Linked DNA regions of Homo sapiens. The protein of the gene in region 4 purifies or fractionates together with the protein of the main gene of each other region. This does not show direct contact. Each region holds a gene or a part of one and is shown on either strand. Other genes may lie near its edges. The genes, in order: CPSF3, NMD3, NRBP1, CTPS1, KLC1, PUS7 and SUGP1.

Region 1 (2,474 bases), on a different chromosome or scaffold from region 4:
TCTCACTCTGTCGCCCAGGCTGGAGTGCAGTGGCACAATCTCAGCTCACTGCAACCTCCACCTCTCGGGTTCAAGCGATTCTCCTGCCTCAACCTCCCGAGCAAGTGGGACTATAGGCGCATGCCCACCACACCCAGCTAATTTTTGTATTTTTAGTAGGGACAGGGTTTCACCATATTGGCCAGGCTGGTCACGAACTCCTGACCTCATGAGCCACCTGCCTTGGTCTCCCAAAGTGCTGGGATTAGAGGTGTGAACCCCCGTGCCCGGCCCACTAAAGCAGCAGTTTAGTGGCTTTAAAAAAAAATGATAGACTTTAAATGATGACTTTGTTTATAGAAGTTGTCATACATCTTCAAAACAGTATTCTCTGTGTTGTCATTTTGATTTTAAAGAGCATTCCTCATACAAAACCAGCCAACAGTGCAGGCACAGTGATTACCATGGCCGTTGAAAAGGCCAGAGATTTTACTGGTTCCCACCCCTGGAGCCTCTGGTTCTCTTAACTCATTTTGCAGAGGGCTCAAGTCTGCCAGCGTTGAAGTCTGAGTATCTTAATCATTTTTAGATCCTTCACCCCTTTGGCAGTCAGGTAAGGCTGTGGGGCGGGGGCAGGGGACACACATATATGCAGTTTTACCTTTGATTTCAAGGAGGTTAGACAACCCCCTCCCCACAGGCTATCCTGGGACCCCCGGTTAAACAGCCCTATTGTAGAAGGTGGGTGTTGCTGACCAGGGACTTGACTACAATAGTTCTGTTGGCGGCCCTGTTCCCTGGGGCTCTACAAGAATAGAAAACCCGTGTGGCCCTGGACTGGCCCCGCTCTCCCACGTGCTGCAGTCGGGGTGCAGAATGGAAGTTCACATTGCTGTGGCTGGTCCTCAGGAGCCGTGGGGAGGGCAGTCTGCGGGAGGCTGCGGCCCTTCCACTGGACTTTCACTCTGGCCTTCTTCCCTGTCCTCCTGACACCACTCCTCCCGCCTCCCCTCCCTCTCCCTCACCTCCCACAAACACACCAGAACTATTCAACTCTGAGGAACAGGAGTATGAGACAGCTTCCATTCGGCCAGGAATGGGAGGTTCCCATGTCCTTAAACTTCAAAGCCAATCGTACCCTTAAAAATGCAGCTATTTCCCCAGTTGTTTAAACACTTAGGATTAGATAGGAGTAGATGTATTGGTTTCTTCAGAGAAGCCAACAGTGGATCACATGAAAATGGAACCTTTTTTCCTATCCTTTTGAATACATTTCTGTGTTTAAAATATAATTTTTTTGGCTGGGTGTGGTGACCCACACCTGTAATCCCAGCACTTTGGGAAGCCAAGGCAGGTGGATCACTTGAGGTTAGGGGTTCGAGACCAGCCTGGCCAACATGGCAAAACCCCATCCAAAATACCCCTACTAAAAATACAAAAATGAGCCAGGTGTGGTGGTGGGTGCTTGTAATCCCAACTACTCAGGAGGCTGAGGGAGGAGAATTGCTTAAACCAGGAGGCAGAGGTTGCAGTGGGCCGAGATCGGGACACTGCACTCCAGCCTGGGCAACAAGCAAGACTCCGTCTCAAAATAAATAAATAAAATAAAATATAATCTTTTCCTTTGTGCTAGGGTCCCACCTAAGTTTATTCACACATATGATGAGCAGTAACTGCCTGAAGATGCAAGGAGTTGATTCCCACTCCCCACTTCCCCCGCTTAATACAGTGTTGTCAGTGCTTAACTGTCCTAGGCTGACCATGGTCCATGGGTTGTTTAGAGTCACTGCCTGCCTTTCTTACCTGCATTCAGCCTGCTGGTGGACTGCTGTTTCCTAACACCTCTGTACCAATGGGGACGATGTTGAAATTAACCATCAAAACTGTTTCTCTCGATGACAGAGGCAATGTCTTAGTGCCTTCTTTATCCCCAGCTACTAGCACAGAAGGAATCTGCCACACAGAAGATGCTCAATAAATACCAAGTTTAATTAAAGTAGGAGTGCACAGCTAGTGGGCTTGGGAGCCATTTAAACCTAGATACCTGGATTTGAATGCCGGCTCAGCTGTTTACTAGCTGTGAGGCTTTAAGCAAATCACTTAACTTCTGTGTCTTGTTTTCTTCACATGTAAAAGGGGATCCTTACTAAAATTATAGGTTAAGATAATGTATATAAACCACCTAGCATGATGCCTGCTGAATAGATCATTCTTGAATAAAGCTGTGTATTTTCCCTGTTTTATAAACTTAATAAGCTGTATCAAGGCAAATAAGAAGCTTGTCTCAAAAGTAAATACAGGCTGGGCATGGTGACTCCTGCCTGTAATCCCAACACTTTGGGAGGCCAAGGCAGGTGGATCACTTGAGGCTAGGAGTTCAAGACCAGCCTGGCCAACATGGTGAAACCCTGACTCTACTAAAAATACAAAAATTAGCTGGCTGTGGTGGTGCACACCTGTAATCCCAGCTACTAGGGAGGCTGAGGCAGGAGAAT
Region 2 (3,500 bases), on a different chromosome or scaffold from region 4:
CTTTAGCAGTGAGCAAAAAAAGTAGAGCCATGACAAATCAAGGACTCCGACCACCTGCCCAGTTGTACTTTTATTAGTTGATAAATTAGGAATTAACAGCGTGGTTGGAGTGTAAGTCTAAATAGGTATTTCTAACAAGGTCATAAGAGGAGATCATGGCAATCTTACAATATTTTGTATTTTGTAAAATTATTTTCATTCTATAATTTATTAAACAAGCGTTCTAAGATACATTGTTGTGAAAGTTATATATAGTTCTGTAAATGCTTATTGGTGGGTATAAGAGAAAAAAAGTATCTACTTGTGATATTCAGAATGATTTATATGAATGGTAGCTGAAAACTGAAGTTTGAGTTAAAAGAAAACTACAGTTTTTGTTATTAAGAAAAACAGTATTCAGTCACTGAAAAATTTTAGCAAATTTTAACAATTGTACAAATAATGCTTGAATCCATTCTCATAAAAAGTTAAATACATGGAGAAAAATTTTAAAAGTCCTCTTGACACTGTCTCTCCATCCCTTCTCCTTTCTCCTGAGGTGTAACCAGTGTCATTAGTTTGGTCATTTTTTAGCTTTATTGAATTTTGTGGCCTCACTGTATAGTTCCCATTCTTTGTAACTTTACAAATATTTATCTTGCAGGTATTAATCAAGAAGAGCTATGACCGGACCAAACGTCAGCGTCGTAGAAACTGGAAATTGAAAGAGCTTGCAAGAGAGAGAGAAAACATGGATACAGATGATGAAAGGTCTCGCTTTTCTTTAAATCTCTTATGTTGTCTCAAAGGAAATATTTATGATAAATACTTTTTATGTTGTAAAGAAATAGGCATCACACAATTGATCCTTGCACTCAATTATAATCTTGGATTCTTATCAAGGTATTAATGGAATCAGTATAAGATGATGTAAAGACATTTAACACAGATTTAGTAATTATTTCCTGGTTTATGACCTAATAATTGTAGTGTTAATGTAAACAATTCATTTGAAAAGTTAAAATATAATCATACTTTGCTTAACAATGGGCATACCTTCTGAGAAATGCATCATTAGGTGATTTTGTTGTGTGAGCATCATAGAATATGTGGCACATGACTTTATAATAAATAATTACATTATGAATATCACAAATAGCAGATGAGTACTTATGGCTTGAGATAAAAAGGAAACAGCTCATTGATGCCAAGTGTGTTATTCCTCAAATAATTTAAGCAGAAATGAAGACAGTGTTCTAAAACAGTTTATTGGATGATTCAAAAAGTGGCTTTAATGATGGTGAAGACACCGATGTCTAAAAAAACTGAGAGTTTATATAAAATTGTTTCATGAAATGTGAGTTGGAAACAGCAGTATGTCTACATAGTCCTTAAAATGAAAGTCCTTAAATGAAGAAAATATAACTATATTTTTGGTGATGAAATATTTAAATGTTTATTTAAAGGCAATACCAAGATTTTCTTGAAGATCTTGAAGAAGATGAGGCAATTCGAAAAAATGTCAACATTTACAGAGGTTGGTGTTCTAGGAGTGTTTAAGTCATTTGTTCTGTATATAAGTATAGTTCCTAGTATGAATATTTTGGTATCTTAAGCTTTGATTCTCATAAATGTCTTTAATTGTTTTTTCAACTACTCTAGTCACACTTCTACAAAAAAACTTGCAAAACAATAAATAAAACTTAACAAAATACTGTTTTGTATATTACAGTTAGTATTATTTGCATTCTAGCTTGATCCCTTAAGTTGCTCACTCCTATAGTGGTGGAAGTATATTCTTACAGTTACTCAGTTCATTTGTTCAGTGAATGTAATTTGAATGACTGCTGTAAGAGACAAGAGCTTCTGATACAATGTAGTTACATAATAATAATGATAAGGTAGATATTTGTATATTTTCAAATATATTTAATACTTTGTATACATATAAATACTTTGTATTTATTTTATTCTCTTTGTATTTTTTTAGATTCAGCCATCCCTGTGGAAAGTGACACCGATGATGAAGGAGCACCTCGAATTAGTCTGGCTGAGATGCTTGAAGACCTTCATATTTCCCAAGATGCCACTGGTGAAGAAGGTGCATCAATGCTGACATAATGAGATGTTGTAGACTGTTTCCATACATGGGCTTAAGAAGTTGGACAGAGTTACCTTAAGTGTCTCTACTATCTTTGCCTCCAGATTTCAAGAGGAGAAATTTAGTTTTAAACCTGAATAAACATGTTTGTTTTCAGTGCTCACTCAAACCACTAAAACAGATGGATAGCTTTGAGGTTTTAGATAAGGAAAGATTATGGAGAATGTAGTTGTTATTGATTTTTGGCAATTTTACATTTGGAATTTTATCACTGTGCTTTTTTATATGAGGCACTGTAGTATTTTCACATAGTATAGTACTCTGGATGTAAAAGCTCAAAAATTGTGATTCCTTGAACGTTCACTAAATCTTCAAGCAAAAACACATTTTTACATTATTTTTACGTTGATTATTTTAGTGAAAGACCATATGAAGAAGCATTTTTAATATTAACTTGTTACATACTTTGATCCACTTTACATCATTTTTATGTTGTTGAGGTAGGGAAATTAGGGTTCAGTTTATCACTGGACATTCAGGAGGCAAGTCAATCTTTTTTATTTCCTTATAAAATTAACTCTTCAAAAGCCGTTAAACAGAGAGTTATCTTAATTTTTATTGCAGTAGGAGGAAATATATTTAAAATATTTGTAGATTTATAGCAAATAGAGACTCGTTATTTAAAGGTTAAATAACAATTTGTTCTTTTGTTGTTTTTGCCAGTTTAGGGCAGTAGCTGCTTTTGTCATAAATATCTTCCTACCACATCAAAAATGCTGCTTTTAAAATTTTTGTTTATAAATTGAGAAGGAATTTTCTCTCTATAAGTTTCTGTCATTGAACAGATCACCATTAAAAAGAATATTAGAATCCAGCATGAAGATAATGGCTAATAAAAATGAGGTACATACTTTATAAAACCATTAATCAGATTTGAATGAGGAATGCTTCCCACATCCTTGAAAGAAAAACTGTGGCTTACGTTTTGAAGTATTCTGAGAATGAAGTATTAAGATCCAATTTCTATAAGCAAGATCAGACTTGTTAAGTATGCCGCAAGTAAGAGCTAATTCATTCATTCCATGTGTGCCACTAAATAAAGAGATTGAGCAAGTGCCACTGTGTGGAACATTTTTCTTTTTTTTAATATTGGACTTTCCAATTTTGAAATTATGGATAAAGTCCTAAATTTTCTATAGTGGCTTCTTTTCTGTCTGCATATTTTGTTAAAATTGTGGATCTAAAAGCCATATCCTGTCTTTGGTGGTGGCCTGGTAGGAATGGCTTGTCCTAGTTCTTCAAAGGTAAGATTGACCAAAGCAAGTTCTCATTGGTGGTCTGTGTTTACATCTTCCGTGTCAAGATATTTTAAAGCATGAAAATAAAGCCATTCTTGCCCTTTTTCGTGTGTTTGAAATGG
Region 3 (3,500 bases), on a different chromosome or scaffold from region 4:
TTTCCTGCTTTTAACCTTGAAGGCTAACAAGGTCACATACCTAATCTTTCACTTGAATACTCCACCTCAATGTTGAAGTAGAAACTTACTCCACACTATCCTCCTGACTTCCCACTAGTCTTCTTTTCTCTCCTGTTCCCTACTATACTTATCTAATGAGTTACAAACTGTTCTTGTTTGGACCTTCCTGCCCAGGCTCTGCTTACTATAGTCTATCAACTGATTCATAACCTTATGTCTTTTAAATCTTAGCTCATTATTTCAGGCCACCGTCCCTAACTAAAACTGTATAAATATAAAATCCCAAACAACTGGTTTAATTTAAATTGACTGATGTGCTTAAAAATATAAAAATGGCTGTCTGAGAGTATACAGCAATGGCCTGAAGTAACCATCAAATTAATTTACCTCCATGTAGACACATTCAAATTAACATACTTTTTTTTTTTTTTTGAGACAGTCTCGCTCTCTTGCCCCAGCTGGAGTGCAGTGGCCCAATCTCAGCTCACTGCAATCTCCGCCTCCCGGGTTCAAGCTTGCCTCAGCCTCCCGAGTAGGTGAGACTACAGGCACACACCACCATGCCCAGCTAATTTTTGTATTTTTAGTAGAGACAGGGTTTCACCATGTTGGCCAGGCTGGTCTCAAACTCCTGACCTCAAGTGATCCACCCGCCTCAGCCTCTCAAAGTGCTGGGATTACAGGTGTGAGCCACTGCACCCAGCCAACACACAACTTTTTTTTTTTTCTTTTTTTCTGAGACGGAGTCTACCTGTGTCGCCCAGGCTGGAGTGCAGTGGCGCGATCTCAGCTCACTGCAAGCTTTGCCTCCCGGGTTCATGCCATTCTCCTGCCTCAGCCTCCTGAGTAGCTGGGACTACAGGCTCCCGCCACCAAGCCTGGCTAATTTTTTTTGTATTTTTAGTAGAGACAGGGTTTCACCATGTTAGCCAGGATGGTCTCGATCCCCTGACCTCGTGATCCGCCCGCCTCGGCCTCCCAAAGTGCTGGGATTACAGGCGTGAGCCACCATGCCCGGCTTCCAACACACAACTTTTAACCCCAGCATCATCCATCTTAACCCCCTTACCTGTGTGTTTCTATGCAAAAACATGGTAGGCACCTCCTAAGAAAATGTTTATAGATTTTTCGTGTCCTTTCTGTTATGTTCCCTAGCTCTTAGGAGCATATACCCAGTGGGTACAAAGGAAGAAAAACCAGAAGACATTTGAAGGTCAGTTGAGGAGGGAGTGATCCTGAAGATCCTTACCCTCTGTAATGGGTCTTCTAGAAGCTGGATGGCACTGCTGATGGCTTCCTGTGGCACATATGAGGACTCTCCATTGCCCTGAATCTCCAGCACTGCCATCTTCAGTGAGGAAGAATAAAAAAAAAAGTAGACACCTAAGAACTTCAGTGCTCCCACAATCACTCCCTCCAAGCCAGCGCCTTACTTGTCTTCCCTCCATTCCCAATTCCATCTTCTCATCTGACCCCTTTCCCCCCTCCCCTCCAGTCCCCTCACCTCCAGTGCACACATGCCAAAGGAGTAGATGTCCACTGCTGTTGTCACATTAGTGACTTCTAGGGAAAACAGAGAAGGCTTTGGTTAATCAGAGGATTGGGGGCTAGGGTTGGCAGGAATGCCTTAGGAAAAAAAAAAAAGAAAAGAAAAATATTTTGTATGCTGGTAGAGAAGGCCTAGAAGTTTCAGTTATATTGCCTCTGTACCTCAAGTTATAAGGTGCAAAAGCAGGGGGATGAGGACAGGGCAGAGAAAGCAGGAAGGCTCACCTCCATACTCTGGTGCAAAGAAGTGTAGATTCTTCTGCTCTTCTCGACAAGTCTTCACATGATTGTTGATAGTGTCAGGAGCCACTGGGAGTAGGGGAGACACCCACAATCTGACCATCATCAATGAAGAATAGTCTCACTCCAGAGAGAGGCCCCAAAAGCCAAATTCTCTCCTGAAGTCTCCTTTCTGATGACCCTCAACAGGCACAAACATATTCCCTTTCCTGTCCTGAACTACAGACCACACATGGATGCCACCTACCTCCCCTTTCTTAGGCCTACTGCTTCTCATCTAATGTCCCTAAATCAGGAGCAACAAAAGCACCAGACTAAATTAACAGATACACAGGGGCTTCAGGCTGGTCTAGAAGCAATGAAGTTTAAGGAAAAATTTTCACTTGTACTGCGTTCACCTTCCCTAAATCCCAGGTACCTCTAATCCCTGCTCACATGAAAATATTTGGTTTTAGTTTTTTCATCCACCCTGCAAATAACATAAAAACACAGGCAGCCCTTCCTAATCTGGGACAATTGGAGACCTCAGGAACTTGGATAAATAAGGATAAGAAGTATTAACATACAGCTCAGGAGGTAGCCTCCTTCTTACCCACCTTTGCTGAGTGAAACTCAAAACAGCTCAGAATTGAGCTAATACCCTTGAATCTGTTCCACTTTTAATCCACCAAAACATTTTAGACTCCTGTTCTACCCCCTTATTCCTCAACACTGTCTGCCACAGAGCTGAACGAGGAACCAGGACCAGGCCCAATTTGGACTCACTCAGATCATAAACAATGACTACAAGTCACAGAGAATCTGGGAGCACAGTATGATCTGGGAACTAGCCTGATGATGAGGGAGAACATGAATCCAGGAGGTAAGTGGCCAGCCAGGCAGAATCCACAGGAAACAAGCAGGTTATGAAGGGGCAAGCAGGCGGAGGGCTGGCAGGGCAGAAGCTAAGCAGGCATAATTAGGCAGGGAAGATAGGGGAAGAGGGTTTGCTCCCACGACTGCATGCACTGGGCAGCCGCCAAGGGAGCAGAGGGAGCACAAACAGAGCCCCAAGTGGGGCAGAGGGAGCTCTCACCATTAGCAAAAATCCTATGAAAGACTGTTGGGAACAGAGCAGCCCGTAAGCGGGAGGGAGGAAAACAGAGAAAAGTTGTGAGCGATGGAGCAGCCAAGCCCCAGACAAATGGACACACAAATACCACACAGACACAGCACACAGAAATGTTGTACACTGCATACAATACACAGCAAACGAAAGCACTCACAGCAGGAACAGCCTGGAACCTCCTCTGGCAGGGTCTGGCCCCAGGACTCAAATCAAACCTCAAACCTATCTCTTGCCCTTTCCCAGCCTCTTATCAGTATCTCTGTATTAACCCCAATTTTCCCTTCAAAAAGGTGTAAGATTATATATCCTACCCCCTCTCCACTAATTAACTGGCCTCTCCTATTAATTACTCCTAGCAAGGTCCTTTCTCTTCTCACCAGCCCACACCTCAGAATTTTGCTCTGTTATCCCCCATTCCTTTCATCTTACCCCCATGGTTCCCAAATTCCCGAGGCTCCCCTGCCCAGAACCTCTCCCTCCCCTCACCAGAGCCAATCTTGATGAGTCCGTTGTGCTGGATGAAGATGGTGTCACAGGTCAGGTTCCCATGGATGATGGGGGGGTCACAGGAGTGCAGGTAGCT
Region 4 (3,500 bases):
ACCTGAGGCTCTGCAGAAATGACAAGTGCCACATTGTTGTATCTGTCCCTTCCTTCAAGATCTCCAAAATTTACAGCTACATCAAACAATAGGGTCTAAGAATTCAGACCCTCCCCTTCCCCGCCCCAGAACTGGTCAGACTGGCACCAGAATGTAGTAATCAGTATTGAGACAACTGCCCAGTGACCATGCTCCCCAAGCTGTCATCCCCAGGGCAGGACTGGGAGGTGCACTGCAACTTGGAGGAAGGGCTGCCCATTTGATACCCACAATGACCTCACTACTTTCTTTTCTCTCTCAACCTCTGGATTATATTCAAGACCTCACCACTTTCATTCCTGGCAGATAAAAATTTTCAGCCCTAAACTTCCATGATATTCTTGCAATCGCAGTGTGTTATCACCATGTTTTTAAAAACTAAAACTTTAAAGTACCACTTACGCTACAAGATCAGTCATGATTTATTGATGGAAACTTCAGTTCGGTGATTTCAGAGTCAGGGGAGCTGCTTCCACTCCTGTCACTATAGGTGTCCCTGTAGAATTCAGATGGTTTACGCATCATCTCCCACCAAAAACTCACTTTACGTCCCTGTTTTTGTAACCACGGTTCCTACAGGGACACTTGCCTGCACATGGCAGGAATCACAAAGACTGTTTGCTACATAATATATTTAACATGAAACTGCAGAAAGATTTCCTTCTTCTAGCTACAAAAGATATACATTCCATTTATACTTCAGTCACACACCCTACCACCAACTCTGAGTACTGGTTCTGGATAAAGGTGGCAATGGGACATAAACCTACCCATTGTGGCTTACTTCCCAGGAAAAACTAGTTCCCCTTAACATGGACCAGAGGGTCCTACGCCAAGTGTGATCTGGTCAGCACCACCAGAGCTCAGATGCTGCAGAAAGGGGGACCTGGCCAATATGCCAGGGAAACACCGTGAGAAAGCTCCGGGAAAGGAGAGGAAACTTTCACCCCAGGCGCCTGTGGCTTTTTTTTCTTATGACTGACTGTGACGTGTTGCTGTAATGAATCAGCGACCACCTAAAGGACTAGAGAAGACTAATGGATTACTGAAGCAAAGAGTGCGCCTACCTGGGTGAGAGCCTGCAGCCTTTCTGGAGGTAATGTGAGAGCCGCCCCACAGAGGCCAGGAGGAGGCCAAAGTATGGTGGGGAGGGCTTGATAGGCCTGGACAGGAACTCAGGGTGGTACTGAACCCCAACAAAAAAGGGATGATCTGAAATAGAGATTCAAAAGAAACAGCTTCATTGTGAAGGTTATGCACAAAGTGTAAAAGAACAAAATCTGCTTAAATGTTTGTTTCCATAGGCCCTAAAATAATTTGAAAATGACTTTCTCATTTGAATCTAGATAAAGGGAACCTCAAAGCATGAGTGATCTGATACCCTTTCTCAGCACGGTTTGTGCTGTCCCCTCCTGGCTGAAGGCCTCCTGTCCAGGGTCCCGCCCAAGACCCTGGCTCCCAGGATTTCTGTAGACTGAGTCTTGCGGTTCAGGAGAGGGCTGAAGTGGCTTTAGTACCAACTCCAAGCATTTTGGAGAAGGAGAAACTGCGGCCAGAAGTTAAATGGCTCCCCGAGGAAGGCCATGTACCAGAAAGAAGTTTCTAGAGTCCAGACCCCATGTTTATCAAGACCCCTTCCCTCATGAGACAGTGCTGCTTCCTAATTCTGTTAGGTCAGGAGCAACAAGATAACATTTTTATATTTTCCCATATGCCAAGAAAACTTTACTAAGTTTTCCATTAAATAAAACTGCCCGAATAATCACCTTCTAACTCCACAATTTCCATTCTCTCTCCTTCAACATCTTGGCCAACAAACTTCAAGCCTTGTTCTTCCAAACACTTTTTCCAGACTGGATTCACCTGTTGAGGCATGAAAAATAATTCTGCTGGTCTCTCAGCTCACTATCTTTCCAGAGTACCAGCAAGCTGGAATCCTCACCTCAAATCGGTGGCGGTGCCTCTCTTCCAAGTAGTCTGCGTCTCCATAGAGTTTCCCTGGCAAAACAAACGGGCTGTATGTAAAGAACTTTATCTCACAGGATGATGCGTTCACAAAGACATCCTCCTTCCTGCTTTACTTTTCATCATCCACACAGCCAGGTCTTTTGAGGGCTATTTCTATGAATCTGCTAAGGTCACCTGCTCTTAACAACACAGTTTAGACTAATTCTTGGGCTTTTGACTCTTTCTGACAACACTACAGAAAGCTGTAACAGAAACAAGACTCTCACCACCACCCTCAAACACATGATTGCAAAGTATGGGCACTTTGCTGCTAGAAAACTGCCTTGGAAAGCAAATCAGGATGTACGAAACGGCAAGGCCCTGGGAACGTGGCAGGATGGGAGGCATTTTAAGAGCTGCACAGATGACCTCTGATGATCATTCAGTTCCAATCATGGTCATCAAAGGTCATCAGCCCTCAGTGGCTGCATGTGAACAAGCTGGACATTTGCGAACGGGCTGCTCTACTGACTCATTTCACAGTTGCCTCGAGATCCCCAAATCCACAGAACATCAGAGTTGGTAAGAGAAAGATCCGATACTCAAGTGACTCCAGCTATGCTGCTACAGAACGCCCAGACAGACACAAGGGTGCCTCTGCTAATACAGTAAAGGCAGAATTTTCCCAGTAGACAAGAAGGAAATCTGTGTAATAGTCATTTTCTTAACTATTTTCCTCCGAAAACTACCCTAAACCTTCAGCATCTATTAGTACTTTATTAGAACAGAATCTACTTAGGCTGAATCATATGAAATTGCCATCTTTGTGTGACAAAAATTGCCAAACATCAGCAATTGATATGGCTGGTCTTAATAGGAAAGTAACCGATAAGGATGAATGTAACCTCACTGCCTCATTCTGTTGAGGCGCCCATGCCTAGGAGTCTGACTGCACTGCCAGTGTCCTTTCTAAGACCCACACTGCTTCTATGGCTATCACAGTGCATCCTAAAAGGGTATGAATAAGAGAGGAAAGAATGAACTTCAAAAGCAAGAACGAAACCAAAAAAAGCCAGCCTGCTCCTCGAAGCCACAGCATCACCCTAAGACACGCGTCCTGGGCACGCAGAGCCAAAGGCTGGGCCAGCGTGAGGCAGCTCTTACTCATGACTGAGTTCTTGGTCTGGAACAGGGTTCTCCTCTTGCCCAGCCTCATGGTTCCGCCCATCTGCCCTGGGTTGTGTTCTGGCATGTCTACGACCTGGAGATGTTCAGAAAACAGACACCAACTACAGAACTCTGCTTCCGCTAGAGAGAAACCTCCCTCGCTGAGTGGGTGGCAAAGGCTTGTAAGTAAGCTCTAATTCTCCAGGCTTTCCTTATGAGACATTTTGTCACAGAAGAAAATGCCTCCCAGTTGGCATTTGTAACCTCGGTTGGGTGGAGGCTCCGTCCTTCAGCCTGTCCTCCTGATCTGCAGACAGGACCACAGCAGCCCCTCCTCAGGCTAGTCC
Region 5 (3,500 bases), on a different chromosome or scaffold from region 4:
TAGTCAGTTAAAAACACATCACAGTGGTTATTTCTCAAAACCTAAAACCGAAAAATTTTTAAAAACACAAAAAACAGCGCCGGGCACAGTGGCTCAGCCTGTAATCCCAGCACTTTGGGAGGCCAAGGCGGGCGGATCAGGAGGTCAAGAGATTGAGAACATCCTGGCCAACATGGTGAAACCCCATCTCTACTACAAATACAAAAATTAGGTGGACGTGGTGGTGTGTCCCTGTAGTCCCAGCTACTTGGAAGGCCGAGGCAGAAGAATCACCTGAACCATGGAGGTGGGGGTTGCAGTGAGCCGAGATCACGCCACCGCACTCCAGCCCGGTGACAGAACGAGACTCCATCTCAAAAAAAAAAAAAAAACCACACACACACAAAACAAAAATCTCAAAGAAAACGACTGCCCCCTTCTTTTGTACCTTTTCTCGGATTTCCAGAGCTCTTTTACACAACGGCTCTGCTTCTTTGTACTTCCCTCTTTTACCATAAAGGACTGCAAGGTTATTCAAAGTCGCCGCCACCTGTCAACACAGAGAGAACCACTAAGAATGGTAAAAGATAACCAAATAAGAGTACATTTATACACCACATATTCATTTATATTCAATCTATACAGTAAAGCATTCTTAGTCGGATAGAACAATATGACTTCAGTTAAAATGAAAAGCGCAATTCACTAGAGTATAGATTATACAAAGTAACACTGCAGAATACTAAAATTAAACAAATCAACAACGTATTCCTGACTTTTTAAAAATTTCCCTGGAAGCCACAAAGCCAACCAAAACAGATTCATATGCAAATCTGACCAGATTTTAATGAAGACAATATAATTTTCAGAAAAAAATTTCTAGAAGGACATGCAATTTGATTTACAATCAAACAATACAGTTGGTGATCCATTTGAGGTGGGGTCATAAACAAATTAAGTGTGCTCTGGCCTGTCACTAGCACTGAGTAAGTGAAGACCTCCTACCTGCACCATCTAGGGAAAAGGCAGCACTTAAACTTTCCCTGTTGAGTTTAATGGTAAAATGAGTTGGATAAAAGAAATATATGGGGAAAATAAAATATTAAAAGAATGAAAGAACTGGATATACAAACCGCAGGATGATCTTTGCCCAAAGTTTTCTCACGAATAGCCAAGGCATCATTCAGTAGGTTAGCTGCATCTTTGTATTTATTCTGATCCCTAAATGGAAAAACACACATTAAGTGTTTCAGATGTAGATCACTACAGCTTTTCTTTTCTTTTCTTTTCTTTTTTTTTAGACAGAGTCTGACTCTGTTGCACAGGTTGGAGTGCAGTGGTGCCATCTTGGCTCACTGCAACCTCCGCCTCACGGGTTCAAGCAATTCTCTGCCTCAGCCTCCTGAGTAGCTGGGATTACAGGCATCTGTCACCACGCCCGGCTAATTTTTGTATTTTTAGTAGAGACGGGATTTCACCATGTTGGCCAGGGTGGTCTCAAACTCCTGACCTCATGATCCACCCGCCTAGGCCTCCCAAAGTGCTGGGGTTACAGGCATGAGCCATCGTGCCCGGCCTCACTACAGCTTTTTTAAATGTAATTTTCAACTACAGAAATAAAAGTTAAGCTTAAACTATTTAAGAAAAACCACAGGGCCGGGTGCAGTGGCTCATGCCTGTAATCTCAGCACTTTGGGAGGCTGAGGCGGGCAGATCACGAGGTCAGGAGATCGAGACCATCCTGGCTAACATGGTGAAACCCCATCGCTACTAAAAATACAAAAAAATTAGCCGGGTGTGGTAGCAGGCGGCTTTAGTCCCAGCTACTCGGGAGGCTGAGGCAGGAGAATGGCGTGAACCTGGGAGGTGGAGCTTGCAGTGAGCAGAGATCGTGCCACTGCACTCCAGCCTAGGCGACAGAGTGAGACTGTCTCAAAAAATAAATAAATAAAAAGATGGGTGTGGTGGCTCACGCCTGTAATCCCAACACTTTGGGAGGCTGAGGCGGGCGGATCACGAGGTCAGAAGATCGAGACCATCCTTGCTAACACAGTGAAACCCTGTCTCTACTAAAAATACAAAAAAAAATAGCCGGGCATGGCAGCATGCGCCTGTTGTCCCAGCTGCTGGGGACGCTAAGGCAGGAGAATGATGTGAACCCGGGAGGCGGAGCTTGCAGTGAGCATAGATCGCGCCACTGCACTAAAGCCTGGGTGACAGAGCAAGACTCCGTCTCAAAAGAAAAAAAAAAGAAAAAAGAAAAACCACAAGCTTATGGATGGGGAAAAAACACTGGAAGGAAATCCACCAATAAATGGACTGGCAAGGTGAACTCTGGAATCAGACCCAACTAGCTTCTGAACTTAACCTTCCCATCTAGGCCACTGGGAAGATAATGTCCCCACACTACAGTGTTGTCCTGCCTATGCCAGCTGGCCAGCACAGAATAAGTGCAACAGTCTAGAACAATGGACCAAGCTTGCATTTGGTTTCAGACAGAATTAATTCTAGTGTCTGAGCTTGGGCTCTACCAGTTAATGGCTACATGGCTTTGGGTGCATTACGTGACCTCACGCAGTCCCAGCCTTCCCATCTACAAAGCAAGTATATGATCTATTGCACAGTCTTGCTGTAAGAAGATGATATGCTACATGTATACTGAAAAAATATTTTAAAAAACAACAAACAAAAGTAAATATATTGTTGTGTCTGAACTTGGTACCCAGTCTCCCTCCATTTTGTTGAGTATGGAGGAACGAAGAATCTTTCTTGATTGGAGTAAAACAGAAACACCCCAGAACCAGAAACTCTCAGTTTAAGCGTGCTACTCACTACTGATGTGACTGAGAACAAGTACTTGCTTTTGAGACTTAGCACACATCTTTCTCAATTGAGTAGTAGTAACTGCCTGGCAAGGCTTTCCCCTGAAAAACGTGAGAAAGGTTAATAAGGCTTCTACAACCTCTGAAGCACACTAATTCTGGCCACGTATTAATATATTGTTGTTTCTTCTTTCATCCTATTACATCCTATTGTAAGCTGCCTCAAACTTTTTGTGAAAGTCAGCAAGTACAAAATAGAGTTCCAAAAAGTAGTGGCCAGGTGCGGTGGCTCACACCTGCAATCCTAGCACTTTGGGAGGCTGAGGCGGGCAGACTGCCTGAGCTCAGGAGTTCAAGACAAGCCTGGGCAACACAGTGAAACCCCATCTCTACTAAAATACAAAAAATTAGCCAGGCCTGGCGACATGCACCTGTAGTCCCAGCTACTCGGGAGGCTGAGGCAGGAGAATTGTAGCAAATGCAATTTAAAAATAAGCTACCAAGGCTGGGCACGGTGGCTCACGCCTGTAATCCCAGCACTCTGGGAGGCTGAGGCGGGTAGATCACCCGAGGTCAGGAGTTCAAGATCAACCAACATAGCAAGACCCTGTCTCTACTAAAAATACAAAAATTAGCTGGGTGTGGTGGCAGGCACCTGTAATCCCAGCTACTCGGGAGCCTGAGGCAGAAGAATCGCTT
Region 6 (3,500 bases), on a different chromosome or scaffold from region 4:
AGCTCTTTTCCATTCCTTTCTTTTCTACTCCATAAAGCACATTGGAAGGTGAGTGAGTGATTCCAATAACCTGGAGTCCAGTCCAACACAGTCAATTATTCGTAGCATTTGACTCAGATTATCCTCATACTTCACAGCTGATCACAACACATTTTGGTGTCACCACCATTTCTGATGAGGATCCCACATTCATTTAGTTCCTTACCTTTAGTCAAGGTCAAGATTCTTATCTGCACTCATTTTGATATATTTATTTGATTTATTTACATAACCAGTAGAAAGGAGATTTTAAAAATATTTATTACATTTGTTTCTAGAAATCATAGAAAATAAAAATTGATACAATTTTGATATACAACTTTAGAAAGGCATATTTATCCTTTCACACCAGAGAAGTTTATGCAATGCCAGACATGGAAATACCAAAGCCACTGGTGACAAAGGGTAAACGCTACTGATAGAAGAAAGCCTTGTCCATTTTTATAGTTTTCTTCTCTACCATTATTTATTTTTGAGCAAATACCAGTCCAGTGGAAAGAGTTCTGAACATAAAAGGCACCTAGAGTAAAAATTAGACCTTAACTAATAAAACAGCTGTACACGTTTACATCAAGAAAAAAAAACCCGGCCAGCACAGCTCATGCCTGTAATCCCAGGAGTTAGCCTCGGCAACATGGCCAAACCCCCGTCTCTACAAAAAAATACAAAAATCAGCTAGGCGTGGTGGTGCGCGCCTGTACTCCCAGCTACTTAGGAGGCTGAGGTGGGAGAGTCACTGGAGCCTGGGAGGTCGAGGCTGCAGTGCAAGATTGAGAATTGCAGGATTGCACTGCAATCCAGCCTGTGCTACAGAGTGAGATCCTGTCTCGAAAAAAAAAATAAAAAAATAAAATGGGCCTATCAATGCAACGTTCCTGCAAGGCATTGATAATATAAATGCAAAAGCCACCGCAACCAAAAAGTCTATAATGCTTGCCTGAATCTAGTACATAAGCAGGATAATGACAATCACTTTTTGTTTATAAATTTGTAGATGTCTTATTATTTCAGTCAGCATGAGTACTGTATTTATATTTGTGGGTGGCAGCTCTCAAATTATTTATCCATAGTCCAGATTTGTTTTGTTGCATTTGCTCTTAAAATGCATTGTTGTATACTCCATCACAGATGTGTCAAATACTCCTGCTGTCTTTTGAGAATGTAGCAAAACCTAAACCTGCTACTTTAAACCAAAGTCCTTTTTTTATTATTGTAAAGCTGACATTTTACTCTGATTTAAGCACCTGAAGTGTATTTTGACTAATTTATATTCTGAGCTAAAATTAAGAACCTCAGGATTTGTGTACATGTACAAATATTGCAAATTATTTCTTTAAGCTAATAAAAACTTAAAAATACAAATAATTTTTATTACAAAGATTTGAAATCCATATATGAGTCTGAACTAAGACAAAAATGCACAGGGAGCCAGGAAGCAAACACTTGTGTACGTTTTCTAATCTGTGGACAAGGTACTGCTCAGCGAAGCCAGGTTGTATTCAGCTGCGTCTGGTTCTTGATACTGGTATCCATTTTTAGCACTTCTCGAATGGCCATGGTGGCGTAAGTAGAAGGGGGTAGAGAAAAATCCATTTTCAGAGCCCTGTATTTGCCTTCTGCAAGGCAAGAAAGAAAACAGTCAGAAAATGAAGGCAGCTGCAGACAGACCAGCGAGAGTCACATAATCTCTAAGCAAATACAAAGAACTGTGCTGCTTTCCTTAGACTCCACTTCCTAGGGGGCCTTGGAGAATGAGACCATGGAAGTAAGAGATCTGTGAGTGTGAACCTGCTGAATGGTTACAGAAATTCTGCCCAGGAACTTTCACAAAAAGGCAGATGACAGAAGAACACAAAAGAGAAACGCATGTAAAGTTAAAGAAATAATAATAAATTACGGCCTGGGAAAAAACAGAACAAGAATTTGATGATGAGAATGCCAATTTAATTAATTAATTAATTTTTTTTTGAGACAGAGTCTTGTTATGTTGCCCAGACTGGAGTGCAGTGGTGTAATCTCAGCTCACTGCAGCCTCCACCTCCCGGGTTGAAGCGATTCTCCTGCCTCAGCCTCCTGAGTAGCTGGGATTACAGGTGCCCACCACCACGCCCGCCTAATTTTTTTTTTTGTATTTTCAGTAGAGACGGGGTTTTGTCATGTTGGCCAGGCTGGTCTGGAACTCCTGACCTCAAGTGATCCACTTGTCTCGGTCTCCCAAACTGCTGGGATTACAGGTGTGAGCCACCACGCCCAGCCACCAATTTTTTTTTTTTTTTTTTTGAGATGGAGTCTCGTTTTGTCACCCAGGCTGGAGTGCAGTGGCGTGATCTTGGCTCACTACAAGCTCCGCCTTCTGTGTTCACACCATTCTCCTGCCTCAGCCTCTCCAAGTAGCTGGGACTACAGGAACCCGCCACCACACCCGGCTAATTTTTTGTATTTTTAGTAGAGACGGGGTTTCACCGTGGTCTCGATCTCCTGACCTCGTGATCCGCCCGCCTCGGCCTCCCAAAGTGCTGGGATTACAAGCGTGAGCCACCGCACCTGCCCAACCAATTTAATTTTTTAGACTCTTCCTGAATTTTCACTCACCTTTGGTAAGTCTCTGTGGGGGATGGGGAGAAATACTCCATCACCTAATATCACAACCATCTATAACATGCACTTATTTTCAGGAGGATTTACTGGTTTTAATCACTAACTTTCAGCCATAATTGTGAAAGTAAGGTCATAAAACACAACAATGAAATCATGGGTGGTGGTAGTGCTTGTAAGAGCAGTTTTCAAAAAAAAATTATGTTTTTGTTTAACAAAACATTTCAAAGTCAACACAGAGCTGATGACTGAGTAAACTTACCAGAAGCAAAAACTGGTGGTGTCTTCCCTTCTAGGTTGTCCACATCTGTGTTGAAAAGTGGAATTTTGGGATCATCATATGCAACGACTTCCCTTCAAAACATATGAATAAAGATAAGTGTGAATGTGAACTTTCATAAAAGGTACTAAGCCACTCATCATCATTTATTTAGCAAGAAAAACAAGTAAGTTTACTGTAAATAATTATAGTTAGGAATCTTGAATAATATAGCAGGGCCAGATTTTATACCTAAGTTTTGCTTATATATATAATTTTTTTTTTTTTTTGAGATGGAGTCTCAACTCTGTCACCTAGGCTGGAGTGCAGTGGTGTGATCTTGGCTCACTGCAACCTCTGCCTCCTGGGTTCAATCAATTCTCCTGCCTCAGTCTCACAAGTAGCTGGGACTATAGGTGTCTGCCACCATGCCTGGCTAATTTTTGTATTTTTAGTAGAGATGGGGTTTCACTATGTTGGCCAGGGAGGTCTCAAACTCCTGACCTCAGGTGATCCACCCGCCACAGTCTCCCCAACTGCTGGGATTATAACGTGAGCCACTGTGCCTGAATATAATAGGCTCAATCCAATTATATTCTATTAGTTA
Region 7 (3,500 bases), on a different chromosome or scaffold from region 4:
GGTCGAGAGTTCAAGAACAGCCTGACCAACGTGGAGAAACCCCGTCTCTACTAAAAATACAAAATTAGCGCATGCCTGCAATCTCAGCTACTTGGGAGGCTGAGGCAGGAGAATGGCTTGAACCCGGCAGGCGGAGGTTGCGGTGAGCCAAGATTGCACCACTGCACTCCAGCCTGGGCAACAAGAGTGAAACTCCATCTTGAAAAACAAAACAAAAAAAAAATGAAAAGCTGGAAACGCCCATCCCTTGGACTAGTCATTCTCCCATTTCTGAGATACATCCTGGAAATCATGTCAATAGAGCATCAGCTGTAATGAAAAGTCAGTAGGCCGGGTGCGGTGGCTCATGCCTGTAATCCCAGCACTTTGGGAGGCTGAGCGGGGTGGATCACGAGGTCAGGAGATCGAGACCATCCTGGCTAACACAGTGAAACCCCGTCTCTACTAAAAAATACAAAAAAAAAAAAAAATTAGCCGGGTGTGGTGGCGGGCGTCTGTAGTCCCAGCTAGTCAGGAGGCTGAAGCAGGAGAATTGCCTGAACCCGGGAGGCGGAGCTTGCAGTGAGCTGAGATTGTGCCACTGCACTCCAGCCTGGGCGACAGAGCAAGACTCCGTCTCAGAAAAAAAAAGGAAGAAAAAAAAGAAAAGTCAGTGACACAGTCAGCGTCCAACCTCTGTGGGTTAAATCATCAGCACATCTCCCCAGTGGAGTATGCCGCCTTCAGAAGGCACCCATGTGAGCTGGCAGCCCAGTGTGAGGGAACTGAAGCAAGGCCAGTCAGTGAACATGCTTCCACTGTTCTAATAGGAAAGGCTTATGTCATCAGCTTGAGGCAGAAATTTTTTTTAAAACTGGGATATGTATAGGATCACAGCTCTATTAAGATAAATCTTTGCTGAAACTGGCAGGAAACACCTTAACAGTGGTTATCCCTGGGTTCAGGGTGGGATTAGTTCCACCAGAGGGGAACCTTGGTGGTGCACCCAGCCGTGTTCTAGATGGGGTGTTGGGGGGCTCCACTTTCTCCCCCTCATGGGGGTCTACCATTGAGTGCCATTGTAACCCCCTCCCCGAGATGGGCAGACCCTCCAGGGGACTGTGATGCATCCTTGGACCATCCTGGAGGACACTCAGGGTGAAGCACCAGCTGAGACCAGGAAGGGGCCCCCACACCCCGATGCCTGCTCGCCCTAGCAAGTGAGCCTCCCCAGCTTGGCCTCTCAAATCCATGTCTGAACTCACCCGGCTGTCAAGTGTCTTTTCCAAATCTGACCAACTGTTCCCTTCTCTCCTGAACAGTTGTTGCTTTTACCTCTTAATCTTTGCATATGTTCCTCACTGGGTCACACGTGTACCATGACCCAGGATTACAGAGAAGATGCTGTCATCTCCTGTCCTTCTGTCCCACCCTCTTGAGGTACCGGATGTTAGCAGGGCCGTAGACACACAGGCTCACCTAGAAACTGTCTAAGGGGTCTCTTGCTGCTCGCTCACTATTTATCTTATTTTTTTGAGATGGAGTCTCACTCTGGTCCAGGCTGGAGTGCAGTGGCCCAGTCTTGGCTCACTGCAACCTCCGCCTCCCAGGTTCGCGTGATTGTCCTGCCTCAGCCTCCCGAGCAGTTGGGACTACAGGCGTGTACCACCACGCCCAGCTAATTTTTTTATTTTTAGTACAGACGGGATTTCACCATGTCGGCCAGGCTGGTCTCGAACTCCTGACCTCAGGTGATCTGCCCGCCTCGGCCTCCCAAAGAGCTGGGATTACAGGCGTGAGCCACCGCGCCCGGCCTCTGTAACACAAAGGGACTTCACAGCATCCTTGACCCTTTAATTCACATTAGTTGCACGCCTTGGTGCTATGACCATCCCTCCAGATTCACAAGTGCAGGTCCAGCCCCATCTTGTTCAGCACTGTAACATGCTTTCAGGGCTGTACATGCATTCAGTTCTCTCCCGTGTTCTGCCATGTGGAGCTGGGCCAAGACTCTCCCTTTTGGCATAGACCCCAAAGACAGTCCTGTGGACTGGGGATGTGTACGGTCCGAGAGGCGCCAGTAGGTGCGGAACATGGCTCTGAACCCAGCGCCACCTGCTGTGCTCCTCAGGCTGGGTAGGGACAGAGAAGACCTGTGCTCCCAGCCTCACTGGAAGCCACACTTCCCTGAGGCTGCCTGCCCCCACGTGGGGTAGAAATCAGCTCCTTGGTCCGTTCTGATGTTCATTGTCTCAAAGATGCATTTGAGAAGCCCTTGGGATCAAGACAAGTCCCTCTGCCCTGTCTCGTGTCTGGTGTCTCCCCACAATCTGAGATTTTTTGGTGTGAATGTCTCACTTTTCCCAGGCCCTGGGGAAGGGTCTGAGGGTCCCTGCCCTTTCCCTTTGTAGCAGGGTGAACAATGACAGTGTGATGGGTGCCTGATAAAGACAGGGTGAGGATTGGAGTGACTCAGTTCAAAGGAAGGGCATCGGGCCACCAGAACCAGCAGTCACTGCCAGGAGGCCTGGCAGGGCAGGAGGTCATGGTGGAGACCGTGACTATGACATGACCATATAGTGACCCTGGCCAACGTGGGCACACAAGGCCAGAACTGCTCCTGCCCAGAATCAGGGACAGGGCCTCGGGCCCAGCTGACACTGCACCCCCCAACTCTCCTTTGCAGCTTTCTGTATGAGCCCAATAGCCAAGGGTACAAGTACTACCGACAGAAGCTGGAGGAGTTCCGGAAAGCCAAGGCCAGCTCCACAGGCAGCTTCACAGCACCTGATCCCGGCCTGAAGCGCAAGTCCCCTCCTGAGGCCCTGTCAGGGTCCTTACCCCCAGCCACCACCTGCCCCGCCTCGTCCACGCCTGCGCCCACTATCATCCCTGCTCCAGCTGCCCCCGGGAAGCCAGCCTCCGCAGCCACCGTGAAGAGGAAGCGGAAGAGCCGGTGGGGGCCTGAAGAGGATAAGGTAGAGCTCCCACCTGCTGAACTGGTGCAGAGGGACGTGGATGCCTCTCCCTCGCCTCTGTCAGGTGGGCAGACCCTCTCCCCCTCCCTGTGTTGGAAGGGTCTGACTTCTTTCACTGAGCATAATGTCTTCAAGGTTCATCCACAGTGTAGCTTGTATCAGAATTTCATTCCTTCTGTGGCCATATCTTCCACTGTGTGTACATACCACATTTGGCTTACCCACTCATCTGTGAATGAACTCTTATATTCACAGAGGTTGTTTACACTGCTTGGCTGTTGTGAATAATACTGCTGTGACTATCTGAATCGTTTTCAGTTCTCTTGTCGGTATACCTAGGTGTGGAATTGCTGGGCCTATTGCAATTCTGCCTTTTTTTTCTTTTTTCTTTTTTCTTTTTTTTTTTGAGACAGAGTCTCGCTCTGTTGCCCAGGCTGGAGTGCAGTGGTGCGATTTCAGCTCACCATAAGCTCTGCCTCCTGGGTTCACACCATTCTCCTGCCTCAGCCTCCTGAGTAGCTGGGACTACAGGTGCCCGCCACC

What was found.
Region 1: the proteins of CTPS1 (region 4) and CPSF3 fractionate together in Homo sapiens (co-fractionation; one large-scale study listed by BioGRID). This does not show direct contact.
Region 2: the proteins of CTPS1 (region 4) and NMD3 fractionate together in Homo sapiens (co-fractionation; one large-scale study listed by BioGRID). This does not show direct contact.
Region 3: the proteins of CTPS1 (region 4) and NRBP1 fractionate together in Homo sapiens (co-fractionation; one large-scale study listed by BioGRID). This does not show direct contact.
Region 5: the proteins of CTPS1 (region 4) and KLC1 fractionate together in Homo sapiens (co-fractionation; one large-scale study listed by BioGRID). This does not show direct contact.
Region 6: the proteins of CTPS1 (region 4) and PUS7 fractionate together in Homo sapiens (co-fractionation; one large-scale study listed by BioGRID). This does not show direct contact.
Region 7: the proteins of CTPS1 (region 4) and SUGP1 purify together in Homo sapiens (affinity purification with mass spectrometry; one large-scale study listed by BioGRID and IntAct). This does not show direct contact.

Annotation. Positions count from the first base shown.
Region 1 is NC_000002.12:9,468,654-9,471,127, forward strand, and holds part of CPSF3 (cleavage and polyadenylation specificity factor subunit 3), read left to right. Parts: intron 1-2,474. UniProt on the Homo sapiens protein: Component of the cleavage and polyadenylation specificity factor (CPSF) complex that plays a key role in pre-mRNA 3'-end formation, recognizing the AAUAAA signal sequence and interacting with poly(A) polymerase and other factors to bring about cleavage and poly(A) addition.
Region 2 is NC_000003.12:161,248,811-161,252,310, forward strand, and holds the end of NMD3 (60S ribosomal export protein NMD3), read left to right. Parts: intron 1-643; coding exon 644-750; intron 751-1,445; coding exon 1,446-1,516; intron 1,517-1,969; coding exon 1,970-2,100; 3' UTR 2,101-3,497; downstream 3,498-3,500. UniProt on the Homo sapiens protein: Acts as an adapter for the XPO1/CRM1-mediated export of the 60S ribosomal subunit.
Region 3 is NC_000002.12:27,435,131-27,438,630, reverse strand, and holds part of NRBP1 (nuclear receptor-binding protein), read right to left. Parts: intron 3,499-3,500; coding exon 3,404-3,498; intron 2,909-3,403; coding exon of another isoform or gene 2,885-2,908; intron 1,879-2,884; coding exon 1,795-1,878; intron 1,585-1,794; coding exon 1,526-1,584; intron 1,370-1,525; coding exon 1,271-1,369; intron 1-1,270. UniProt on the Homo sapiens protein: Required for embryonic development. Plays a role in intestinal epithelial cell fate and proliferation, thereby involved in the architectural development of the intestine potentially via the regulation of Wnt-responsive genes.
Region 4 is NC_000001.11:41,007,196-41,010,695, reverse strand, and holds part of CTPS1 (CTP synthase 1), read right to left. Parts: intron 3,248-3,500; coding exon 3,151-3,247; intron 2,038-3,150; coding exon 1,982-2,037; exon of another isoform or gene 1,903-1,981; coding exon 1,806-1,902; exon of another isoform or gene 1,801-1,805; intron 1,252-1,800; coding exon 1,107-1,251; intron 536-1,106; coding exon 451-535; 3' UTR 442-450; exon of another isoform or gene 438-441; intron 1-437. UniProt on the Homo sapiens protein: This enzyme is involved in the de novo synthesis of CTP, a precursor of DNA, RNA and phospholipids. Catalyzes the ATP-dependent amination of UTP to CTP with either L-glutamine or ammonia as a source of nitrogen.
Region 5 is NC_000014.9:103,667,211-103,670,710, reverse strand, and holds part of KLC1 (kinesin light chain 1), read right to left. Parts: intron 1,201-3,500; coding exon 1,113-1,200; intron 530-1,112; coding exon 428-529; intron 1-427. UniProt on the Homo sapiens protein: Kinesin is a microtubule-associated force-producing protein that may play a role in organelle transport. The light chain may function in coupling of cargo to the heavy chain or in the modulation of its ATPase activity.
Region 6 is NC_000007.14:105,456,272-105,459,771, forward strand, and holds the end of PUS7 (pseudouridylate synthase 7 homolog), read right to left. Parts: intron 2,989-3,500; coding exon 2,897-2,988; intron 1,656-2,896; coding exon 1,519-1,655; 3' UTR 232-1,518; downstream 1-231. UniProt on the Homo sapiens protein: Pseudouridylate synthase that catalyzes pseudouridylation of RNAs.
Region 7 is NC_000019.10:19,296,510-19,300,009, reverse strand, and holds part of SUGP1 (SURP and G-patch domain-containing protein 1), read left to right. Parts: intron 1-2,665; coding exon 2,666-3,021; intron 3,022-3,500.